Linked DNA regions of Homo sapiens. The protein of the gene in region 1 interacts with the protein of each later gene in a pairwise test. Each region holds a gene or a part of one and is shown on either strand. Other genes may lie near its edges. The genes, in order: ZC2HC1C, YWHAG and CHAT.

Region 1 (3,653 bases):
CCATTTAGAATGTAAACACCTTGAAGGTAAAAAGGACTTTCTTTCTGGTTATCTTACAAACCATGCCCTTGCCAATTATTTCTCACTTTAGAAAAACCAGGTTGGAAAAAGTAAGGGTTTCGTGACACTTACATGATAAATTTAGGTGAACTTCATAGGCACATTTGGACATATCTGGAGAAGATTGTCTCATAAATGAATGACATGTCAAGGTTGTGCCACTTGGTTTATAAAATGGTTATTTCTCAAGGTGTGGCATGCTGACAAACTTTATTTTAGTAGTTTTAGTGTTTAGTGTTGTATTAGAAAAATTGATTCGTCGTTTAGTGTTATATTAGGAAAATATAACAATATATTAAGCCCCTGATTTCCAGGGATCATGAATTTACAGAAAAATATTAATTAGTTGTAAGGATGAAGTGAAAGTGCAGATGATTGAAGTTTGGGAAAGCGTAGATCATATGATCTCAGAGGCCCCATCTAGTTCTAATATTCCAGAAGAATAAGAGAGTGTCATTCTGTTTTCATTTCTTCCCAACCCTCCCTCCGCTGTGCTGGCACCTCTTGTCCATTGGCACTTTACAGTTTCTGTGTATTTGCTGGAGCCTTTAAAAACTCACATTTATATGATGGTTGTTAGAAGAAATTGTTTACAATTAGAGTTCTTTCTTTTAGTAGTTTGGAGAAATCACAAGGAAGTCCCATCCATGTTCAGAGATCATCTCCCTGAAATCTAGTTTCCAAAGAAGAAATCAGCATTTTGCTCTTGCAGATAATAATATGATCACCACTTACTGTTTTTTCCTGTTTTCTTTCAGTTCAACCCAGTAATCCACTGGGAATTCACTCTATGTCCCACTGTAGCGATTTATTTTTGGCCAGAGCCTAAAAGAATCTTGTGTTTCTTAAATTCGTAAATACAGTTACGGTGAAGCAAAATAATTAGGTTCCTGAGATCAGATGCTCCAGCTTTATGGCAACTAGTTTGTGGGAATGTGTGACATTGAGGACACCAAGACAGAAGGGACCTAGACTAAGATGCACCTGCACCACCCTGGTAATGTCTCAAATCTTATTCCACAGTGCTGTGCCTTTGGAAGCTGAGTGGTTGTACCTTCCTGTCATTCCTCTAGAGTACTCAAGAACAGGTGATTTTCCTGGTATCCTTTAATCTTCACGTAACTCCCAGCAGACGTACACCCTGTCTCTCTCCTGGACTGTAAGCATTTTTGAGGACAGGGAACATATTTTGTGCTTTGTGCTTAATAAGTGTTAACTGAATAGAATTTCAGTACAATGAGGAATAAAATTATAGGAATTAGAGTATAAGAAGTAAATTACTAAAGGATCTCATATACTTGAGGAACTTTCCCCTGATCAAATTCTTTGAGAGGAACTTTCCCCTGATCAAATTCTTTTTTTGAGACCGAGTCTCGCCCTGTTGCCCAGGCTGGAGTGCAGTGACGCGATCTCGGCTCACTGCAGCGATCTTGGCTCACTGCAGCCTCCACCTACCGGGTTCAAGCAATTCTCTGCCTCAGTCTCCTGAGTAGCTGGGATTACAGGTGCCCGCCACCACACCCAGCTAATTTTTGTATGTTTAGTAGAGACGGGGTTTCACCATCTTGCCCAGGCTGGTCTTGAACTCCTGACCTTGTGATCCACACGCCTCAGCCTCCCAAAATGTTGGGATTACATGCATGAGCCACCGTGCCTGGTCTTCGAATTCTTTTAAAGGTTCCTGGATACCATCGCTAATACTCTCTTGCCTTCTTGTCTGTTTTGGCAAGAGACTTTCTGGAAGGATCCTTTCTTTTCCTTTGATAGTATCTCTTCCTATTATTCATCATTAACAATGCCAGATCACCAAGAGCTAGTTGTCTTTTTTCTCTTTAAAAAATTTAATAGTGTTTGCATGCATTTAAAAAACATGTAGTACTGAATGACCTATAATGGAACCCCTAATTCAGCCCCCGGAGGCAGCCTTCAGTTCTGTTAGATGGTTCTTCTGGTCTGCCTTTCCATATTTCCAAATAATATGCTTATTTTCTTGATTTATCAATTTTCTACATTACCTGTTTTTTTTTGTTTTGTTTTGTTTTTTTTGAGACGGAGTCTCTGTCGCCCAGGCTGGAGTGCAGTGGCTTGATCTTGGCTTACTGCAACCTTCACCTCCCGTGTTCAAGCAATTATTGTGCCTCAGCCTCCTGAGTAGCTGGGCTTACAGGCGAGTGCCACCACGCCCGGCTAATTTTTGTATTTTTAGTTAAGACAGGGTTTCACCAAGTTGGCCAAGTTGGTCCTGAACTCCTAACCTCAAGTCATCTGCCCACCTCGGCCTCCCAGAGTGCTGGGATTACAGGCGTGAGCCACGGTGCCTGTTCTACCTGGTAACTTCTTATGGAAGCTGGGAGTGAAGTTCTCTTTCATATTCCCTCTCTCCTACTGTTCTCTTTCTCTTATCCTTCCACTGTAGTCGAATCACAATTTTTGGTTAAAAGTAGTTAGCTTTCACATTGTAATGATCAAGTAAATTTTGTTCATTAATGAGTGAACAAATTCTGTCTCTGCCCACATGTACCTAAAATTAATAATGGACGTATGTTTTCATTTCCTTCATTTTCTACATACCTGTCTTTTTCTCCCCCGCAACGATCCATCTGATATCAGACATCTGTTAACGTTTTTGTAATGCTCAAACACCTCTCATAATCTATCAGTTTGATTTTTTAATTCTGAAAACCTCCCTTCAGCCACTCTGATCCCTTCTGCTCCAACCTGGACTGGGTATTCTCTAGGCCTGGTGCAAACTCATTCTCTTGGAACTTCTCTTTGCTTCTCTTCTTTGTTGGGTCCTCTGTTTCCAGCATCCTGTGTCTTCCTTTTTCTTGCATTACTCCTTCCTTTGCTGAAGCTTACTAAGAAGGGTGCATAGCAGGTATATTGTCTTGGAATGAATGACACTATCTATATGACAGGCTCCCATTTGATGATTTGGCTAGGTACAGAATTCTAGGAGGAAAATGATTATCTGTTAGAACTTTTAAAGTATTTCCCACTAGCTTTTAGCATCCAGTGTATTGTTGTGAAATCTAATGCCATTTTGATTCCTGTTCCATTACAAGAAACCTTTTTTTTTAAAAGGCTACGGGATTCTCTATTTATTTTGAAATTCTGAAACTTTACAATAATTGTGCTAGATACTTGGTAAGCCATTTCAATCTCAAAATGTGTGACCTTTAATTCTAGGAATGTTAATTGTATTATTTCCTTAATAATTTTCTCCTCACCAGGTGCTGTGGCTCACGCCTATAATCCCAGTACTTTGGGAGGCTGAGGCAGGTGGATCACCTGATCTCATGTGTTCAAGACCAGCCTGACCAATATGGTGAAACCCCATCTCTACTAAAAATACAAAAATTAGCCGGGCGTGGTGGCGCACGCCTGTAGTCTCAGCTACTTGGGAGGCTGAGATAGGAGAATCGCTTGAATCTAGGAGGCTGACGTTGCAGTCAACCAAGATTGCGCCACTGCACTCCAGCCTGGGTGACAAAGCAAGACTCCATCTCAAATAACAACAACAACAAAAACAAAACAAAACAAAACAACAATAATTTTCTCCTCGTGCTTTCTCTGTTCCTTCTGCAACTCTT
Region 2 (3,653 bases), on another chromosome or scaffold:
AAAGTGCTGGGATTACAAACCATGAGCCTTAGACTTTGAAAAAAAAAATTTTAAGGCAAATTAAACATTTCCACCTTTAAAATCAGAAGATTATCACTTTATAAAACTGTTGTGAAATTAAATGGGAAAAGTACATAAAAATGCTTCCCAAGGTGACAGTAAACGTCAAACTATATTACAATATTTCATCTAAGTGTGTAATTTAAAAAATCTCGTCTTCCCGGCCGGGTGTGGTGGCTCATGCCTGTAATCCCAGCACTTTGGGAGGCCGAGGTAGGTGGATCACGAGGTCAGAAGATTGAGACCATCCTGGCTAACACGGTGAAACCTCATCTCTACTAAAAATACAAAAAGTTAGCCGGGCGTGGTGGTGGGCGCCTGTAGTCCCAGCTACTCGGGAGGCTGAGGCAGAATGGCGTGAATCTGGGAGGCAGAGCTTGCAGTGAGCTGAGATCGCGCCACTGCACTCCAGCCTGGGCGACAGAGCAGACTCTGTCTCAAAAAAAAAAAAAAAAATACCAAAAAGTACCGTTAAGTTTTCCATTGCGGTCCAGACGCGTTTTGGTCATCATTTATTAATACACACACACACACACACACACACAGACACACACACACACACACACACAGCCAGATGATGAAAAGAGAAAACCAAGATCAAAATGCAACAGGGTACCAAAAAATGAAAGTAACAGGTAGTTGTAATTCACTCAGCAAGTGTTTTTGAGAATCTACATGCCACAGCTCCAAATAATGTTGGTAGAAATACATTCTATGTAAGTTGTAAAAATTTAATCTGTTAATGATAGCTTTGTTTGAAGTTGTGCCATATTGTTTGCCCTTCCTCAATAAATAGATCAAGTTCCAAACATCTGAAGTCTTTTTCTACATGGCCAGCAAACGATGAAAAACAAAAACATGCCTGCAGGTGGATCACTTGAGGTCAGGAGTTCGAGATCAGCCTGGCTAACATGGTGAAACCTGGTCTCTATTAAAAATGCAAAAATTAGCCAGGCGTGGTGGTGGGCACCTGTAATCCCAGCTACTGGGGAGGCTGAGGTAGGAGAATTGCTTGAATCCAGGAGGGGGAGGTTGCAGTGAGTTGAGATTGCACCACTGTACCCCAGCCTGGGCAACAGAGCAAGACTGTCTCCAAAAAGCCATCTTCCAAATTGGTAAATAATCCCCGAGGAGGCCAGAAGAGTAAGAAAATACAGATAAAAGACCGATGTGCTGAAAAATGGTGAAGCTGGGTGTACGGGGGTTACTGTACTATTTGTCTTTATTTTGTATGTTTGAAAGTTTCCATTAGTCAAAGGGAAAAAAAAGGCAATCACTCCAAAGAAGCATAAGGGAGATGGGCCCTTGCCTCAAATAAGCTGGCATCGAGCCTACCCCTGCTTCAACCTCATTTTCCTTCCTAGAGGACAAAGGGCAATGGGTGCCTTTTGAATTCTGAAACATGTATACATAATACCTATTCAAACACATCTTTCAAAACTTTCAAGGTCCTGTACTAGTGAGGACCTTAAACATTATTCTTAGCTGGTTTTCCAGCAATTCCCCTCTTGGGTCTGTCTTAACGTACGAATTGTGCCTGAAAGATACCAGATACTCCTCCATGTACAACTCATTTATGGGGACATGACCATCCTAAGTGGAGGAGCTTACTGAATGCCTACTGCTTTTGCACCATCATAAAGTTGAAAAATTGTCAGGTTAAGGTCAGGCGCAGTGGCTCATGCCTGTAACCCCAGCACTTCCAGAGGCCAAGGCGGGCACATCACCTGAGGCCAGGAGTTGGAGACCAGCCTGGCCAACATGGGGAAACCCCATTTCTACTAAAAATACAAAAATTAGCCGGGCGTGGTGGTACATGCCTGTAATCCCAGCTACTTGGGAAGCTGAGGCAGGAGAATCGCTGGAACTCAGGAGGCAGAGGTGGTAGTAAGCTGAGATCGCGCCACTGCACTCCACCCTGAGCAATAGAGCAAGACTGTCTCAAAAAAAAGAAAAGAGAAAAGAAAAATCGTTAAGTTAAACCATCTGAAATCAGGGACCATCTATACCCACACATCAATATTATTTACAATGTAAATTTGGAAACAGCCTGAATACTAAGCAAAAAAATAATTAAATTATGATATATCCACAGGATTATTCAGCTACTGAAAATAATGACAGAATATCATTGAAATGATGTCAAGTGAAAAAAGCAAGGTGCAAAAGAATATAAACTGTAGAAAAAGACACGATGGAAATATCCCTGCATGTGAATCATTATGGTGATTCTTCTTGTCATTTCCCCCCGAAATTTCTAGCATCCTGAAAGGCCACCAACATTTTTGTCTTCAGTAGTCAATCCCATTGTTCACAGCCTTCCAAAGACTACAGACTCCCTTAAATAGGCATGGCATTCCAAGATCCAAGATATTCTAGAATATTCCTTCCCTACTCCCTTGTCCCCACTAGCTTTCCTCGCCTTGGAATGCCCTTTTCTGTTGTTCGTATTCTCCTCTCCTGTTCATTCTTCTCGCCTTTCTGAGTAGGGTCTTTTCAACCTAGTAGGAAAAATAACTTCCAGTCTTAACCTCTATTACACAGATACAAGACCCAATGTGAAGGTTTGAAAATAATAACATCTATTCTCTATAGTAGGGGTCCCCAACGGGTCCATGGCCTGTCACGAACCTGGCTGCAGAGCAGGAAGTCTGTCACTCCCCACTGCTCGAATTACCACCTGAGCTCCGCCTCCTGTCAGATCAGCGGTGGCATTAGATTCTCAAAGGAGTGCCAACTCTACTGTGAACTGCACACAAAAGGGATGTAGGCTGCATGGTCCTTATGAGAATCTAATGCCTGATGATCTGTCACTGTCTCCCATCACCCCCAGACGGGACCATCTAATTGTAGAACAAGCTCAGGGCTCCCACTGATCCTACATTACGGTGAGTTGTATAATTATTACATTACATACTACAATGTAGCAATAATAAAGTGCACAATAAATGCAATGTGCTTGATTCATCCCCAAACCATCCCCTTACCCCTCACCCCACCCAGTCCATGGAAAAACTGTCTTCCATGAAACGGGTCCCTGGTGCCAAAAAGGTTGGGGACCACTGCTCTTTAGCCTACCCAGGCCAGGCGGGCCCTCACATTATAACATACTGCCAATGAGTATGGGGTTATCCGCATGGCTACTCACTATGCTGCACCTCCACTGCAAAGACATGCTCACTGCTTCATGTTAGATTGCTACAAAAGCAGTCTGTATAGAAACAGTCAAAAATTCAAGCTGATTTCTACATTCTTAAAGAACTAGCACCATAGGCATTTTGTTTCCCAGATCTGGGTTTTTTAAATATGGTAGCTTTAGAGTCATATGAGTAATTCCTTTCAGACAGCTCAAGAAATGTAAATCATCTCTACGGCTTCAAAAGAAACCTGGCTTTTTAAAGCCTTCCCCTCGCTCCCTTAGCCATTCCTCACTTCCCTGCCCACGGCAGCTGCTCTTCATACTCAGCTTGCGGCAGGTTGGGGGTGGATCAGTGACTCCTCTTCAGCTACTGTCATTACGTGTTCAGCTGGCCACTGCTGTCACTGTCATACTCCCAACTCGGACACCCCTGCTCAGAGGAAAGCTGGGTACC
Region 3 (3,653 bases), on another chromosome or scaffold:
GCGGTTGTTGAGATACATGTCATTCAGCCAGTACTCAGACACCTGCCGGGGAGGGCAGGGAAGGCCGTCACATCCCCCCAAACAGTCCCATCCTGACAGCCCCGAGAGAAAATCGGGACACTTCACCAGAGCATTAATTCATTCATTCCACAAATATATGCTAAGCCCCAGGTATGTGCCAGGAGCTTCCCAGTCCACCAGGCCTGTCCTTCACCTTTGTGCCCTCCTGTCTCCTTTCTTCTGTCCCAGTCCCCATCCTGGTGGCTTGGTGCTACATCGCTGTCCTCTGCCTGTCCTTACAGGTGTCTTCTTCCTGCCTTTCACCCTCTCTTCTTTCCTAATGCGATCTCTGTCCTCATCTGTCCCAATTCCTGTCCCCGATTTGTCCGCCTCTTTCTCTATCCGTATTTCCCATTCCTCATCTTGTTTGTTTCTCATCCTTGTCCCTTCCTGTCCTCCAATCCATGCCACCTGCCTGTTCCCACACCTATCCCCCATCCCTGTCCCTCATCTCTCCTTCTGCCCTGTCTTTGTCCCCTACCTGCCTCTCACCGAGATCCCTCTGTCTCCAGGTCTGCCTCCCGCCCCTCTTCTATGGGTTCCTTGTCTGCCCCTCTTACCCAGTTGGCTGTCTTCTCCTGCCGCTCCAGGAGTTTCTGCTGCAGGGTCTCGCCGAGGCCACCAGGGGCCCCAAACTGCTGCACAATGGCCTGGCTCTTCCTGAACTGCTCCTCAGACACCAAGTGTCGCATGCACTGCAGGTACGTGGCCAGGGTCTGCTGCAGCGGGGGCACGGGCAGTTTGGGCAGCCCCTGGAAGAAAGGGTTCATAGGCATTGTGCCTCTAGTATGTGCGCCCCATGCCTGTCCCCAAGTTGGTCCCTAGTATCTGTATTGTTCTGCCCCTGTGTTGTTCTCTACCCTGGGACCCCTCCATTTCTAGGGCTCAGCTCAGCAAAATTATGAATTTAGGAAGTTCCTGTTTGGCGTCCCTGACCTCATTGTGCTCTGTCCCCAGAAAGGGATAAAGTGCAGAGGAAAATACGGTGATATTGGCATCAGACAGACCTGGGTTTCTACCCTGACCCTGCCACTGACCAGCTCTGCAAACTTGGGCAAATCAGCCTCCCTCTGTGCCTCAGTTTCTTCCTCTGTAGAATGGGAGTAGTAACCCCTATCTCTCATAGGATCAAACAGAAAATAGATATGAAAGTGCTTTTAAGCCATAAAGGATGGATCTAAGATGAAATAGTCCTGTTATTGATATTGTTGGCTGCTGGTGACTCTTAATTTAGAGATTGTTCCCAGCTGGGGCTCCAGAATCTGATTGATCTCTGGACCTGAAGGGGGCACTCTTAGGGAGAGATTTGGAAGGATAAAAGATGGTTTTGGATGAGAGACATAATTCAGTGCTGCCCTAATGACTAGAATTCTAAAAGAGGGTTCCTCAGAAGATGATTCATGCCCTGAGCTTCTTATAAGTCCCTCCTACTTATAAAACCCAGGCAGGGAATTTTGTTTCATGTGGGTGTTAGGGGCAGGGGTGGGGATGCAGTGGATGTCCTTCCTCTCCGAATCTCTCCAAGCCTCTGCTCCTCATCCATAGGACATAAATAACAATTCCTACCTGAGAGGAACACAGAGAGAATTAAATGGGGGAACAACTGGCCTCAAATAGGCACATCTAAAATGTTATGACCTCGCTATCTTATACTTCCAGAGGAATTCCCAAGAGGAAACCCATATTCTTTGGGGGCCCCAAAGTGTGGCTAGAGTCTAGGAAGAACCCCCAACTCCACCCTTCTATACGCATGCTGTGCCTCTCAGTTCACCAGCAGCGTTCACCACAGAAGGCTTCTGTGTGGCTTCAATTTTGTGACTTCCCATTTATGAATGAGGAAACTGAGTCCCAGAGAGTGGAGCAGCTGGTCCAAGGTCACATACAAATCTGATGGCAGACTAGGAGCTAAAATCAGTCTTCCATGTCCACTCTGCTTCTTTCTCCTGGGTCGTTCTCTCCCTTCCCTTTCACTCCCTTTTCCATTCGTTTCCTCTTCTTGTCCCTCACTTGGCCAGTGACAATAGGAAGGCAGAACTTATAATAATATTGCTTAAATTGTACAGTTTCTTCTCCTGTAAAATGGGGGTAGCAAACCCTGCCTTTCATAGGATTAAAGAGCTAATGTACGTGAAAGTGCTTTTAAGCCATAAAGGATAGATCTAAGATGAAATAGTCCTGTTATTGATATTGTTGTCTCCTGGTCAGTCTTAATTTATAAACTGTTCTCAGCTGGGGCTCCAGAATCTAGCTGATCTCCGGACCTGAAGGGTGTACTCTTGTGGAGAGATTTGGAAGGATAAAAGATGGCTTTGGATAAGAGACATAATTCATTGCTGCCCTAATGACCAGAATTCTGCAATATGGTTCCTGGGACACACTGGTAGACAGTGAGGCACCTTCCTTCAGGGGCTTCTTTGTGCAGTGATGAGTTTCCATGAGACAGTAAAGGGTTCCTCCCCATAGGCTGCAGAGTGAATGGGCCCCTTAAAAGCACCTCCTTCTCTGCCCCTGCTGCTGATGGATGAATGACGGCCCTCTGCCTGTCTGATCCTGCCTCTAGGGTTCACTTCTCTGGCAACAGTGGGGTGTCAGTGCCAACTACGGGCTGCTCCTGCCCTGGGGAATGATGCGAGGATGGATCTGGACAGCATCCCAGACTGCCCTGCCCAACCCCAGTGAGCCAGGTCTGGGCCCCCAACCCAGCTGATCTTGTTCTTCCATCTCTTGCGGTGGGGGGGGTGGTCTGTGTGATGGGTGGGTGAGCACCTACAGAAAGCCCAGCCCAGTTAGTGACCTGGCCAAAAGGGCCCACAAGTCTGGCTAGATCCTCTGCCAGACACTGCTCCCCTTCTTCCAGGCTCTGACAGTGCGCTGTGACTTAGCCTGGCTAACAGGGAATCAGCAGTGGGTAAAAAGGAATAAAGCAGGAAATCGCAGCTCAGACATCTCAACCCCCCAGGGATCCTCCCCAGACTCTCCTGGACTTCTGGCCCTGTGCTAAGGAGTGTCTTTGGACCTGGGAGTCTCAGATCAATGCTCCAAAACTCCATGTTTCCTGGGCAGTTCATGTGAGTCAGATCCTGGGCTGGACTCAGAGACGATGGAGAAACAGAGCCTGCTCTGAAGGAAGCCACAGCCCAATGGGGTGGGTAGAGAAGCATGCCAGTGGACCAGAGGTGACAATAGATGTTTGTCAGCTGCAGAATTCAGGGCAATGGAGTGAACAGCTTCTTGGGGAGAAGCCAGAAAATTCTGCTCAGGGTTTCAAATGAGGGCTGGGGGAAAGGGGAAGGGGGAAGGGGGAAGAGGAGTGGCAAAAAGACAAGTGTGGGAGAGGGGAAACACATGCAACCACCTGAAGTCAGGTGTGTTGCTCTGCCACCCGAAGGCTGGCTGGGGCGGGAGGGAGGATGCCTGCCCAGGGAGGATGGCATTGTCTCAGGCCAGTGGAGAACATGGTGCCTAAGGCTCCAAGGCTGAACTAGTGATAGCAGCTGGAGCTGGGACTTGCAGGGCTTGGAGTAGGAATTCAGCCCCACCCTAAGGCAAAATCACTGGGCTCAAAGCTATCAGAAGTGGAAGCTGGGATGAAG

The links.
Region 2: the proteins of ZC2HC1C (region 1) and YWHAG interact in binary tests that used the Homo sapiens proteins (3 or more experiments, as listed by UniProt).
Region 3: the proteins of ZC2HC1C (region 1) and CHAT interact in binary tests that used the Homo sapiens proteins (3 or more experiments, as listed by UniProt).

What each region holds. Positions count from the first base shown.
Region 1 is NC_000014.9:75,072,488-75,076,140, forward strand, and holds part of ZC2HC1C (zinc finger C2HC domain-containing protein 1C), read left to right. Parts: intron 1-3,653.
Region 2 is NC_000007.14:76,348,839-76,352,491, forward strand, and holds part of YWHAG (14-3-3 protein gamma), read right to left. Parts: intron 1-3,653. UniProt on the Homo sapiens protein: Adapter protein implicated in the regulation of a large spectrum of both general and specialized signaling pathways. Binds to a large number of partners, usually by recognition of a phosphoserine or phosphothreonine motif.
Region 3 is NC_000010.11:49,616,884-49,620,536, reverse strand, and holds part of CHAT (choline O-acetyltransferase), read right to left. Parts: intron 813-3,653; coding exon 621-812; intron 43-620; coding exon 1-42. UniProt on the Homo sapiens protein: Catalyzes the reversible synthesis of acetylcholine (ACh) from acetyl CoA and choline at cholinergic synapses.